Homo sapiens: one gene and its partners. The protein of the gene in region 3 purifies or fractionates together with the protein of the main gene of each other region. This does not show direct contact. Each region holds a gene or a part of one and is shown on either strand. Other genes may lie near its edges.

Region 1 (3,500 bases), on a different chromosome or scaffold from region 3:
TTGTCACCAGTGTCACTTGTCAACAGTGCACCTCATATGTCACGTTACCTGTTCTGTTATGGAAGGTGACGTGAGGTGTCCTGAAAAGGGGGCAGGTCCACGACATGGCGGAGCTGACAACAACACCCCCCCAACCTGTACATTTGCTTTTAGCATAATGCAACCTATTGCAATTCACCTAGGCCTAGTTAAGTAGATTTCCTGATAACACCCTGGTTTTTGGGGAGAAAAGGAGGGGAGAAGCAAACTTTTTATTTAGGCTGGGAGCAGTGGCTCACACCTGTAATCCTAGCACTTTGGGAGGCCAGGGAGGGAGGATTACTTGAGCACAGGAGTTCAAGACCAGCCTGGGCAACTTAGCAGGGCCCGTCTCTACCAAAAAAAGGTTAAAAAAGAAAAAAAAATATATATATATATAACATTAATACAGAAAAGTCTACCACAAATCATAAGTGTAAGGTTTCATGAGTTTTTACTACACAAGTATAACCACCCTCCAGGGCCAGGCGTGGTGGTTTATACCTGAAATCCCAGCACTTTGGGAGGCCAAGGTGAGAGGATTGCTTGAGCCCAAGAGTTCAAGACCAGCCTGAGTGACACAGCGAGACCCCCATCTCTAAAAAAATTAAAATCAAGTATTTTTTAAATTTTATTTTTTATTTATGATTTTTTTTTTTGAGACAGAGCCCTGCTCTGTGCCTCAGCCTTGTAAATAGCTGGGATTACAGGTGTGTGCCACCATGCCCAGCTAATTTTTGTATTTTTAGTAGAGACAGGGTTTTACCATGTTGGCCAGGCTGGTCTCGAACTCCTGACCTCAAGTGACCTGCCCACCTTGGCCTCCCAAAGTGCTGGAATTACAGGTGTGAACCAACGCACTGGCTCAAAACATTTTTTTAAAACCACCCTCCAGATTGGGATACAGAGCATTTCAGCACTCCATAAGCCTCACCTGGCCACTGTACATGCACAGAATTGCACAGTGAGTCCTCGTTTGCATCTGGCTTCTCACACTCAACGTCATGTTTCTGACATTTATCCATGCAGCTGTGTGTAGTTATAGTTTGTTCATTTGCATTGCTGGATAATATTCTATTGTATAAACACAGCAAAATTTACTTGTCTACAGAAGATGGACATTTGAGCTGTTTGCAGTTTTGTTTTGTGTTTCTTGAGACAGGGTCTCGTTCTGGTCCCCCAGGTTGGAGTGCAGTGGTACCATCTCTGTTCACTGTAGCCTCAACCTCCCAGGCTCAGGTGATCCTCCCATCTCAGCCTCATGGGTAGCTGGGACTATAGGCACGCACCACCATGCTGGCTAATTTTCTGCATTTTTAATAGAGATGGGAGTTTCGTCATGTTGCCTAGTCTGGTCTTGAACTCTTGGGCTCACGTGATCTGCCTGCCTCAGCCTCCCAAAATGCTGGAATTACAGGTATGAACCACCACACCCGGCCTGTTTCCAGTTTTTGACCACCAAAAATAGTGCTGCTAGGCCAGGCATGGTGGCTTATGCCAGTAATCCTAGCACTTTGGGAGGCCAAGACAGGAGGATCACTTGATGCCAGGAGTTCAAGACCAGCCTAGGCAACATAATGAGACCTCATCTCTACAAAAAATTGAAAAATCAGCCAGGCGTGGTGGTGTACCCTTGTAGTCCTAGCTACTCAGGAGGCTGAGGTGGAAGGATTGCTTCAGCCCAGGAGTTTGAGGCTGCAGTGAGCTGTGATCACCACTGCACACTTCAGTCTGGGCAACAGAGCAAGACCCTGTCTCAAGAAAAAAAAAAACTACTGCTAAGAACATAAGACTTGAGCATGTATATCTACATGCATATGTACACTTTTCTGGTTCCATACTTAGGGGTATAACTATAGAGTCACAGAGCATTCATATATTTAGCTTTAACAGATTCTGCCAAATGGTTTTCCAAAGTCATTGTACCAATTTAGACTCCTATCTGTAGTTTGCAAGAGATCCTTGTCAATATCTGGCACTTTCTTTTTCATCTTTTCCATTCTGGCAGGTATGTAATGGTGTTGCATTGTTTAATTTGCTTTTCCCAAATAACTAATTAAGTTGAGCATCATTTAACATACTCCTTGGACATATATGGATTTTTTTGTGGCATGCTTATTCATGTATTTTGCTTTTTTTTTTTTTTTTTGAGATGGAGTCTCCCTCTGTCATCGGGCTGGAGTGCAGTGGCACAATCTCAGCTCACTGCAACCTCTGCCTCCCAGGTTCAAGTGATTCTCCTGCCTCAGCCTCCCGAGTAACTGGGATTACAGGAACACACCACCATGCCCAGCTAATTTTTGTATTTTTAATAGAGACAGGGTTTCGCTATGCTGGCCAGGCTTGTCTCGAACTCCTGACCTCAAGCAATCTGCCCGCCACAGCCTCCCAAAGTGCTAGGATTATAGGCATGAGCCACCGCGCCCAGCCCTCTTTTGCCATTTTTTAAAATTGAGCTGTCTATCATGTTCATTTTGTAAGGGTTTGTAAGGGTATTTATATACGCTGGATACAAGTTTCACTACTGTATATATGTACAGTACTGAAAATATCTTCTCCCACTTTTTTCTTTTTGCTTTCTCCTTCTTTTTTTTTTTTGAAACACAGTCTCGCTCTGTCACCCAGGCTGGAGTGCAGTGGTGCTATCTTGGCTCACTGCAACCTCTGCCTCCCAGGTTCAAGAGATTCTCCTGTCTCAACCTCCCAAGTAGCTGGGATTACACACACCTGCCACTAAACCCAGCTAATTTTTGTGTTTTTAGTAGAGATGGGGTTTTGCCATGTTGGCCAGGCTGGTCTCGAACTCCTGACCTCAAGTGATCCACCCACCTCCGCCTCCTAAAGTGCTGGAATTACAGTCATGAGCCACTGCGCCCGACCTCTTTTTGCTTTCTTTTTTTTTCCTTTTTTTTTTTTTTTTTTGGAGACAGAGTTTCGCTCTTGTGGCCCAGGCTGAAGTGCAATGGCGCCATCTCAGCACACCGCAACCTCCACCTCCCGGGTTCAAGTGATTCTCCTGCCTCAGCTTCCCAAGTAGCTGAGATTACAGGCATGCGCCACCACGCCCGGCTAATTTTTGTATTTTTAGTAGAGACAGGGTTTCTCTATGTTGGTCAGGCTGGTCTCGAACTCCCAACCTCAGGTGATCCACCCACCTCAGCCTCCCAAAGTGCTGGGATTACAGGTGTGGGCCACCGCGTCCGGCCTCTTTTTGCTTTCTTAATGCAACCTCCGCCTCCCGGGTTCAAGCGATTCTCCTGCTTCAGCCTCCCAGGTAGCTAGGACTATAGGCACGCACCACCACATCCAGCTAATTTGTGTATTTTTAGTAGAGACGGGGTTTCACCATGTTGGCCAGGATGGTCTCAATCTCTTGACCTCGTGATCCACCTGCCTCGGCCTCCCAAAGTGCTGAGATTACAGGTGTGAGCCACAGCTCCCAGCCAGAAGTTCTTAATTATAATGAAATCCAATTATTTATT
Region 2 (3,500 bases), on a different chromosome or scaffold from region 3:
ATCCCCATCACCACCACCACCTAAGTTCAGACTCTTACCGTCACTCTCCTGACTTAGATGTTCTTCCGGTCTCCAGTTTCTCCCCTGTTAACATACTGATTCTAAAATGGAACTATTATCACATTGTTTTTTAAGTCCTTCAGTGGCTCTCTCATACCCTTCAGAATAAAGTCCAAAATCCTCACAGACTTTTCACAGCATGGCCCTTGCTTGCCTCTCCAGCCTTGTCTCTTGACAGGCCCTCCCTCCCACCTCTCAGGTCAGCCTTTTCTTGAATCACTTGAAATTCTCTGAACCTATCATATGCCCTCTTCTGGGCATTTGGATGTGCTATTTTATGTGCATAACACCCTAATGCCCTGCTCCCCCAACATTTAGCTGACTCTTGCCCTACAGGACACGTTTCTGGTGACGCCCAGTCCTGGAAAACTTGTCAAAACCACCCTCTGCTTTCAGCCTGGGTTAGGTATTCATGTCTCTTGTCCTCATAAGGTCCTGTCTCTACTCTGAGTATTTATCACTTTATATTTTAAATGTGTGCTTATATAATGTCTTCCCCCATTAGAATTACATTTCTTTTTTTCTTTTTTTTTTAAGGCAGAGTCTTACTCTGTTGCCTAGGCTAGAGAGCTGTGGTGCAATCTCGGCTCACTGCAGCCTCTGCCTCCTGGGTTCAAGTGATTCTTGTGCCTCAGCCTTCCAAGTAGCTGGGATTACAGATGTGCATCACCACGCCCAGCTAATTTTTGTATTTTTAGTAGAGCTGGGTTTTCATCATGTTGGCCAGGCTGGTCTTGAACTCCTGACCTCAGCTCATCTGCCTGTCCCGGCCTCCCAAAGTGCTGGGATTACAGGCGTGAGCCACTGTGCCAGGCCTTAGAATTAATTTTTTTTTTTTTTTTAGAGACTGAGGCTCGCTGTGTTCCCCAGGCTGGAGTGCAGTGGCGCGATCTCGGCTCACTGCAACCTCTGCCTCCTGGGTTCAAATGCTTCTCCTGCCTCAGCCTCCCGAGTAGCTGGGATTACAGATGCGCATACCACACCCAGCTAATTTTTGTATTTTTAGTAGAGACAGGGTTTCACCATGTTGGCCAGGCTGGTCTTGAACTCCTGACCTCAGGTGATCCGCCTGCCTCGGCCTCCCAAAGTGTTGGGATTACAGGCGTGATCCACTGCACCTGGCCAGAATTAAATTTCTTGAGTCAGCTTCCACCGAGCCAAATGACTGCTGCATAGTAGACTCCCAGTAAATATTTGTTGGATAAATGAATGGATCTTGGCAATGAGTGTATGTTTGTCACATATTTGTAGGCTTCTTCTGAACTGGCCTCTTTTTCCTGTTGTCCTTTCAGGACCTGGGTTTCAGTGATGAGACATGGGGTATGATGTAACCCGTTTCCAGGGGGATGTTGACGAAGATCTTATCTGCCCTATTTGCAGTGGAGTCTTGGAGGAGCCAGTACAGGTGAGTTGGTCTGATGGCAGGTTTGGTGGGGCAACAGGTAGCAGTGGAACTAGTAGAAAATATTCATGGGCAGCGGGACCCATGGTGAAGTCACTGTGTTCTTCTCTCCACCCTCACCCAATAGAGATTTAGGTCAAAGGAGTAATGGTGACTACAAGAATAAGGCCTTCCAGAATCAATCTAGAGGTGGATGCCACAGAGATCCAGTGGTTCAGATTTTTTTCTGAGGTCACTCTGAAAGATTTCTCCTGTAAAACAGTCAGCTGCTTGTTTCTGTCTTGTGATAGTAGCTGGGTAGCTTCCTTTCCTCTACAGGAACTCTTACTAGGTTCCATCTTCCTGTCCGTGATTGAACTTCTGGACTCTCCTAATAAGTTCTCTCTGCATTTTTATGATGTAGTGCTTCAGGTAATCAGCCAGGCTCCCTGCAGGCCTCTTCTACCTGCCTACTGTCTAACAAATAGGAAGGCTGGGCACAGTGGCTCACACCTGTAATCCCAGCACTTTGGGAGGCCAAGGTGGGTGGATCACGAGTTCAAGAGCCATCCTGGCCAACATGGTGAAACCCCGTCTCTACTAAAAATACAAAAATTAGCTGGGCGTGGTGGCACACACCTGTAGTCCCAGCTACTCAGGAGGCTAGACAGGAGAATTGCTTGAACCCGGGAGTAGGAGGTTGCAGTGAGCCGAGATTGTGCCACTGCACTCCAGCCTGGGTGACAGAGTGAGACTCCATCTCAAAAAAAAAAAAACAAAAACAAATAGGAAGTGGGGAACTGTATGTACTGACCTATTTTTTTCCTGGGATCTACTGAAAAGACCAGCTTTTGATACAGCCATGCACTCTGCATTTTGATGTGAAAGCTGCCACCTTCAATAGGTCATTTCTCTGCCAGCCTTGCCAGACCAGAGTCAGTTGTATCATCCTGGGGCAAGTATGAGGAGAAGCTCACGATTACCAGGCAAGTACAATGAGTGAGGTGAATCCTTAAGAGTTGTATTCATGGGACAGCATCCTCCAGGATCCTTATTGCCCTCATTCTGTAAATACCAATTAATCCTTTCTCTTTCCTGGCTATCTAGAGATTATCACATTTTCCAAACCAGGACACTAGGCAATGAGGTTTCATGGCCCTTCCCCCATTCACTGCTCACCTAACTCCCAGGGGCTCCCCTTGAGCCTTTATTTTTTCTCCCAGTACTACTCCAAAAGGAGTACTGATGCCTTGAGCTGAATAAAATTCAGACTGCATTCCAATGGCAACCAACTCTGGACCTGTCTTCTTTCTAGGCCTTTGCAGTCTGCTGCCATTAGAGGCATATTAGATGGGTGTGGAGCAAGTCATCAAGTAGTAGTGTCAAGAGGTCACAGGGTGTGTCAGGTTCCCTCCTCACCCTGGCAGGGCCTTGTCTGTTTTCTGGCACTATCATTTTAGGCAAGTCACTTATGGAAAGGTGAGTCGTAGTTGGTGACAGTCTAGTCAGAAGCCACCCATCTACCTCCAGGCTTTATCTTCTGAGGAGCAGAGCAGGCAACCCTCATGATGCCAGGTTCCCAGACACATTTCTAAGGTTAGAAGGCTCCTGCTAGGGATGCTGATTTCCCCACATCATAATTATTTATTTTTTGAATAGGTGAAAAATGAACATAGTTCAGAAATCAAAAGGTATACAGTGAGAATTCTCACTTCTGTCTTTATTACTGTGCACCTAATTCCCCCACAGATAACTATTTTTATTAGTTTATTTGGTATCCTTCCAGTGTGTCTTAAGGCAGATATAAGCAAATATGAATAGATGTCTGCATATATATGTATTTGTGTATACATATGTATATATGAATATATCTGTGTTTCACCATGTTGGCCAGTCTGGTCTTGAACTGATCTCAAGTGATCTGCCTGCCTTGGCCTCCCAAAGTGCTGGGATTACAGGCATGAGCCACCATGCCCGGCCTTATTTAGCTTTGTTTTGTTTTGTTTTTTTGAGATGGAGTCTCACACTTTAGCCTAGGCTGGAGTGCAGTGGCATGATC
Region 3 (3,500 bases):
TATCTGAAGGGTAATGAGGAGTAGATTTCTTCAGGGGATTTTCTTGAATCTGGTTTTATTTTACATTTTATCAATGATCAGGTTTAGAGAGTTTGATCATATTTGTAAATAAGGCCTGTCTTGGAAGGAGGGGAAGGAAGAAAACAGAATTTTAAAATTAATCTGCATAAACTGGTAAGTGGCATGAAACCACAGCATAAAGCAAAGCAGATATTGTTGCACAAGTTTACTTTGGTCAGAACAATTGGGTCGGTAGTGTTATAAAGAGTGATATAGGAAATCTGTAAACTTTTTGCTGTAAACATTACATTTGGCTTAGGCCAAGCATGGTGGCTCACGCCTGTAATCGCAGCACTTTGGGAGGCCGAGGCGGGCAGATCACTTGAGGTCAGGAGTTCGAGACTAGCCTGGCCAACATGGTGAAACCCTGTCTCTACTAAAAATATAAAATTAGCTGGGTGTGTGGCGGTTGCCTATAATCCCAGCTACTAGGGAGGCTGAGGCAGGATAATTGCTTGAACCTGGGAGCTGGAGGTTGCAGTGAGCCGAGATTGTGCCACTATACTCCAGCCTGGGCAACAGAGGGAGAGACTCTGTCTCAAAAAAAAAAAAAAAAAAGCAAAAAAAAAAAGAGAAAATTATCTAGGTATGGTGGCACATACCCGCAGTCCCAGCTACTTGGGAGGCTGAAGCAGGAGGATCACTTGAGCTCAAGAGTTTGAGGCTGCAATAAGCTAGAATGCCGCCACTACACTCTGGCCTGGGTGACTGAGACCCTGTTGTTAAAAAAAATAAATAAAAATAAATTTGTTTTAAAAAATTGTATTAAAAAACATAACAGTTTATCATCTTACCTATTAAGTGTGTAGTTAATTAATGTTAACTACATTCGCATTGTTCTGTGTCCAGCCATTTTTTATATGGAACATCTACAACCTACAAATCCATTGAAGCTTTAAGAGTATATACTTTCGGCCTTGCACAGTGTCTCATGCCTGTAATCCCAGCACTTTGGGAGGCGGAGGCGGGCGGATCACCTGAGGTCAGGAGTTTAAGACCAGCCTGGCCAGCATGGTGAAACCCCGTCTCTACTAAAAATACAAAAAATTAGCTGGGTGCAGTGGCATGCACCTGTAATCGCAGCTACTTGGGAGGCTGAGGTAGGAGAATCGCTTGAACCTGGGAGGCGGAGGTTGTGGTGAGCTAAGATCACACCATTGCACTCCAGCCTGGGCGACACAGCGAGACTCAGTCTCACAGGAAAAAAAAAAAAAAAAAAAAAGTATATGCTTTTTTTTCTTTCTTTCTTTTTTGTTAAGAGTATATAGTTTGGCTAAAAGTGGTGGCTCTCATCTGTAATCCTACCACTTTGGGAGGCTGAGGTGGTAGGATCACTTGAGCCCAGGAGTTTGAGACCAGCCTGGGCAACCTAGCAAGACATTGTCTCTACTAAAAATAAAAATAGTTAGCCAGGCGTGGTGGCACATGCCTCTGGTCTCAGCTGCTAGGAAGGCCGAGGCAGGAGGATTGCTTGAGCCTGGGAGGTCAAGGATGCACTGAACCGTGAGTATGCCACCATTCTAGCATGGGCAATAGAACAAGACCTTGCCTCAAAAAACCCCCAGTATATACTTTTTTCCCCTCTTCCCCACTATGAAATAAACTTATATAATATTTACTACAGAAGGCTAGAAAAATATGTAGAAAAAAATGGGGGCTGGTCTGAGTGTCTCACGCCTATAATCCCAGCACTTTGGGAGGCCAAGGTGGGCAGAACACTTGAGGTCAGTAGTTCGAGACCAGCCTGGCCAACATGGTGAAACCCTGTCTCTACTAAAAAGACAAAAATTAGCTGGGCATGGTGTCGCACATCTGTAATCCCAGCTACTTAAGAGGCTGAGGCAAGAGAATCGCTTGAACCTGGGAGGCAGAAGTTGCAGTGAGCCAAGATTGCACCACTGTACTCCAGCTTGGGCAACAGAGTGAGACAATGTCTCAAAAACAAAAAGCAAAAAATACAAATAAAAATAAGAGAAAAAAGCTAGGTGTGGTGGTGTGCACCTGTAGTCCCAGCTACTGGGGAGGATGAGGTGGGAAGATTGCTTGAACCTAGGAGCTTAAGGCTGCAGTGAGCTATGATGACACCACTGTGCTCCAGCCTGGGTGCCAGAGTGAGACCCTGTCTCTAAAAAAAAGAAAAAAAAAGGAAAGAAAAATATGTAGAAAAATGGTAAACTAGCCACTCCAATTTACCAGATAGATACAACCATTATTAATATTGAGACAGTTTTTTTTTTTTTTTTTTTAATAGAGATGAAGTTTCACTATGTTGTCTAGGCGGTCTCAAACTCTTGGGCTCATGTACTCCTCCCACCTTGGCAACCCAAAGTGCTGGGATTACAGGTGTGAGCCACCATGTCTGGTTCCTTCTGAGTCTTAAACTGTAATGCCTCTTATCTAAAATATGACCCATCCAAGATCTGATTTCTATCTTGGTTTCCCAGTTTCCTCCCAATAAGTGCATCATTTCTGGTTGGAAACAGTATAGCAAAAGAGTGATTGAAATACAATTTTTTTTTTTTTTGAGACAGAGTCTCACTCTGTTGCCCAGGCCGGAGTGCAGTGGCATGATCTCAGCTTGCTGCAGCCTCCGTCTCCTGGGTTCAAGCAGTTCTCCTGCCTCGGCCTCCCGAGTAGCTGGGACTACAGGCATGCGCCACCATGCTGGCTAATTTTTGTATTTTTAGTAGAGACGGGGTATCACCATGTTGGCCAGGTTGGTCTCGAACTCTTGACCTCATGATCCACCCACCTCAGCCTCCTGAAGATGCCCTCTGGTCACCTTCAGTGAACACTCTCACCTACACTTTTACTAACCATCTTTTAGGGTGGGTTGTTTCTACAGATGCTGGAGCCTATTTATTTTGTGCTGATGTTTTGCTACTGTTACCCGATATAAACTAAATTCAGCTAGGCCATAGAAACTACATAGTAACAGCCGGGCGGGTGGCTCACGCCTGTAATCCCAGCACTTTGGGAGGCTGAGGTGGGTGGATTGCCTGAGGTCAGGAGTTCAAGACCAGCCTGGCCAATATGGTGAAACCCCGTCTCTACTAAAAATACAAAAATTAGCCAGGCGTGGTGGCAGACGCCTGTAATCCCAGCTACTTGGGAGGCTGGGGCAGGAGAATCGCTTGAACCTGGGAGGTGGAGGTTGCAGTAAGCCGAGATCGCACCACTGCACTCCAGCCTGGGCGACCAGAGTGAGACTCTGTCTCAAAAAAAAAAAAAAAAAAAAGAAAAAAGAAACTACATAGTACTTTAAACAGAGAACATTTAATAGGTTATAAACTATAACTGGGGATTCGAGTAACAAGGAATTGGCTAGTAAGAAGTAAAGAGATCTCTAAGAAATATAGAAATAGATACAGGAATCAGCTGAGTTAGAATGTACAAGGAAGAGGGTCCCTAGGGCAGAGTTCCAGACCTTGCTGGAGATG
Region 4 (3,500 bases), on a different chromosome or scaffold from region 3:
CAACTATAGGCAAACAGGGAAAAATATATTTTTTTCATAAAGTACTGAATGTTAACTTTTTTCATCTGTTTGTAAAAAATATATGTGCAAAAGTGTGTTTCTAATTATTCCCTAAATAGCTGGTATAGCTATACTTCAGAGTCTTCTTTAACAAGATTTGCGGTGTCTTTAAAAGTGTCTTCTGTTGCAGAATAGGTTGGAGTTGGGTCTCTTCTCGAAGGAGGCTTAGGCTTAGCAGGGAGCGAAGGTGATGGAGGTGGTGTCGCAGCAACACTTTCCTTTTGCTCGTTCTCCATCTAAGAATACAATGTAACAGGAATCAGCCATTTATTCCCCCAAGGTCACCATACACGGTTTTTCATAAAGAAGACTATTTGTGGCCACTCTGCTCAGAATAATCTAAGTGTGTGTCCAATTTAACCAAGCAAATAATTTCTAAGAAAAAATGTCTGTGCTAAGAAAAATTGTTAAAAATTACCTGTGCATAGATTGGATTTTCAAAGTTGGTAGTTTGTTTAGATTTTCGTTTGAAGAGATTCCATTTTGTCACCTAAATGAAAAGGGGAAAACAAAAACCTCTCAGTAATGGAATTATTTTGTGGGTTTCTTTTCCTCCTGTCTCAGTTTTAAAATTTCTTCTTACTGAAGGGTAAAGCAATTTGGGACCTGGGACCATGTGATTCAGCCCATATGGTAAATTGTTCAATTCCTCCTATGGTCCCTGAACAGTAACTGAAACTCTGGGCTCTTTTAATCGAATGGTTTTAAACACTTCTTTGACTTCAAATTTATATATTATAGAATTTGTGCCATAGTATCTACAAGCAAATCACCTGGTTACCTCAGTACAGAGAGAACACATAAAACAGACATGCACAAGATGCATCTGGAGAAAAAGAGATTTCTGGGGCTGCCTGAAAATTGGGTGGAGATGGCAAAGCCAAACTGTAACTCTTATTCCCTAAAGTAACATTCTTTGGTCAACTCAAGAGTATCCCTTCTCCCTTCATCATTCCCTCCTGTGTCACAATAATAATAACAAAAACATCTAACATTTATTGAGTGCTTACTATGTGTCAGGAACTATTCTAAGAGTTTTACAAGTTTCTGATTTTTTTTAACAAACCCCAGAGGTAGGTACACTTATTATCCTATACTTGCTGAGTCACAGCAAGATTATACAACTAACTTGCAGGTAGAAGGGCAGGTAATGATTACTCAGGGGACCCAGAGGCCCATAAACTGGAGAACCCAAAGATAATCACCCTGGACCATGGTGCGTGGCCCACGCTTTACTGAAAAGTTGCCTGTCATGCTGACTGCCAGATAAAAACCTGGTGGGAGACAAGGGAACAGACAGCCTACTCTCAACAGGAGCTGAGGGAGCCCACAGGTTTTATGGGGTGTCTCTTACTCTGTGACAGCAGGGGACCAGCCTGTGGAGGAGTGGGGAACACAGGGCTACAGAAGTAGAAGAGGTCTTCACTTTAACCCACATTCAAGTGAGAACCTGCTTTGTACATAGTGCCCCCAAGGGGAACATGAAGACATTCAGGTCAGAGCCCTGCCTCTGGGCGCTTACAGTTAAGTGGGGCGGGCCAAAGTCTCTTAGATGTCATTGCTTCAAAATGAAATGGCTAACTTGAAGTTAAGCAATTACTAACAAGAGGAAAGGGACGGTGACTTTCATTTTTGTCTCCTTGGGGGATCCTATGCATATCAATGTAACTTTTGGAAAATGATAGAACTGAATCTTTTTTTTTTTTTTTTTGAGATGAAGTCTCACTCTGTCGCCTAGGCTGGAGTGCAGTGTCACAGTCTCGGCCCACTACAACCTCTGCCTCCCGGGTTCAAGCAATCCTCCCACCTCAGCCTCCTGAATAGCTGGGACTACAGGCATATGCCACCACACTCAGCTAATTTTTGCATTTTTAGTAGAGATGGGGTTTCACTATGTTGGCCAGGTTGGTCTTGAACTCCTGATGTCATGATCCACCCACCTCGGCCTCCCAAAGAGCTGGGATTACAGGTGTGAGCCACCGTGCCCAGCCCATGTTTTTAATTGTTAGTCTTTCAACATATTTATGGATGAAAGATACATTTGTGGGACTCTGGCATATTCAAATCAACCTAGGTGATCTCACCCAAGCGCCTCTACTGCTTTTAAAGCATGCTGGCTGTTAACTCAGTGCCCAGGAGGGAAGAAATACAGTGAGATCCCTGGACATAACATGGAAGACACATTTTAGAGGGTCTCAGCCTCACTAATGTAAAAAAGTAAGAGGAGGAACCAAGGTATTACAAAAGGGAAGAGAAAGAAAGGACTACAATTGGTGAAGATCTGCTCTCCTTTGAAAGAGACTGTCAGTTTACATTTTGTTTCTGATAACAGACATGCAGATCAGAGGTTACAGCCTCCCCACCACAGTCCCCTTCCTGCACCAGCTGGGGAAAATGTCTATTTAGTGAAGAAGATCACTAGACTAGAGATGGACTGAGAAAAAATGTTGAAAATATAAAATAAATCTGGCACTAGCTTGGGGTTGACTCAGGCTTGGAGGACCAAATATATGACATTCAAGCATCCGTGTGTCTGTGGAAAATTAATCTTCAAAATCCATTTTTAATATAGCTTAAAGAAAAAATGTTTAGTCCCTTGAAAAATCTGAAACTGAAAATTCCTTTCTAGACAATATTTATGTATGTCTGTGAGTGTATGAGTGTGTGTGTGTGTGTGTGTGTGTGTGTGTGTGTGACATGAGAAGAAGAAATAAGGGAATTTGAGAAGGTGTACAGAAGCCTTGATATAGACTCTTCTCAGCATCAATTTAGGTCAAATTTTATTTTGATTTAAATCAGCAGAACAGAAACCAATGTTTAAGGTGATAATGAGACTGCCAAGTTACCAAGATATCAATGTTTATAGACTATGAAATTTGAGAAATAAAGATTGTATAAAATGGTAAAATTTCCAACTACTCTTAGACTTTCATTTCTTTACATTACTTCACAAAATTGGTCATAGAATCTTAGAACAGAGACATTCCAGATCCTAGCGGTTCTCAACCAGGAGTGAGTGCACATGTGTTGGGGAGGGGAGGTGATTTCTGGGGTCACACTGAATTAGGGGAGACACTACTGGAATTTAGTGGACAGGGACCAGAAATACTGAAATTCCCTGAGTGCATAGGACAGTTTTGTAGCACAAAGAACTGTCCCACTCAATATGCCAATAGCGCCCCCAGTGAGAAATATTATTGAGGACTCTAGCCCCAGAAGTAAAACAGTTTGTCCAGATTCAAACAGCTATATCTGGTATAGCTGCAAATGCATTCATTAAAACTAATGATATACATTAATACAGAGTTTAATATCAAATATATTTATTGAATTTCTTCCTGCAGACCAAATAGTGTACCAATTGCAAAGGACCTGCAGGCATGTTTAAGAAGCTCCATCTAGTGGCATTTTTTTCTTTCAATCTCCAGTATTAAACACCA

The links. The genes of interacting proteins can lie anywhere in the genome.
Region 1: the proteins of ARHGAP19 (region 3) and CBY1 purify together in Homo sapiens (affinity purification with mass spectrometry; one large-scale study listed by BioGRID and IntAct). This does not show direct contact.
Region 2: the proteins of ARHGAP19 (region 3) and RNF41 purify together in Homo sapiens (affinity purification with mass spectrometry; 2 studies listed by BioGRID and IntAct, with this or other methods). This does not show direct contact.
Region 4: the proteins of ARHGAP19 (region 3) and LRP2 purify together in Homo sapiens (affinity purification with mass spectrometry; 2 studies listed by BioGRID and IntAct, with this or other methods). This does not show direct contact.

The regions. Positions count from the first base shown.
Region 1 is NC_000022.11:38,663,138-38,666,637, reverse strand, and holds part of CBY1 (protein chibby homolog 1), read right to left. Parts: intron 1,093-3,500; exon of another isoform or gene 953-1,092; intron 1-952. UniProt on the Homo sapiens protein: Inhibits the Wnt/Wingless pathway by binding to CTNNB1/beta-catenin and inhibiting beta-catenin-mediated transcriptional activation through competition with TCF/LEF transcription factors.
Region 2 is NC_000012.12:56,211,923-56,215,422, reverse strand, and holds part of RNF41 (E3 ubiquitin-protein ligase NRDP1), read left to right. Parts: intron 1-1,352; 5' UTR 1,353-1,375; coding exon 1,376-1,465; intron 1,466-2,284; exon of another isoform or gene 2,285-2,427; intron 2,428-3,500. UniProt on the Homo sapiens protein: Acts as E3 ubiquitin-protein ligase and regulates the degradation of target proteins. Polyubiquitinates MYD88. Negatively regulates MYD88-dependent production of pro-inflammatory cytokines.
Region 3 is NC_000010.11:97,282,638-97,286,137, reverse strand, and holds part of ARHGAP19 (rho GTPase-activating protein 19), read left to right. Parts: intron 1-3,500. UniProt on the Homo sapiens protein: GTPase activator for the Rho-type GTPases by converting them to an inactive GDP-bound state.
Region 4 is NC_000002.12:169,128,535-169,132,034, forward strand, and holds part of LRP2 (low-density lipoprotein receptor-related protein 2 precursor), read right to left. Parts: intron 551-3,500; coding exon 479-550; intron 297-478; coding exon 129-296; 3' UTR 1-128. UniProt on the Homo sapiens protein: Multiligand endocytic receptor. Acts together with CUBN to mediate endocytosis of high-density lipoproteins. Mediates receptor-mediated uptake of polybasic drugs such as aprotinin, aminoglycosides and polymyxin B.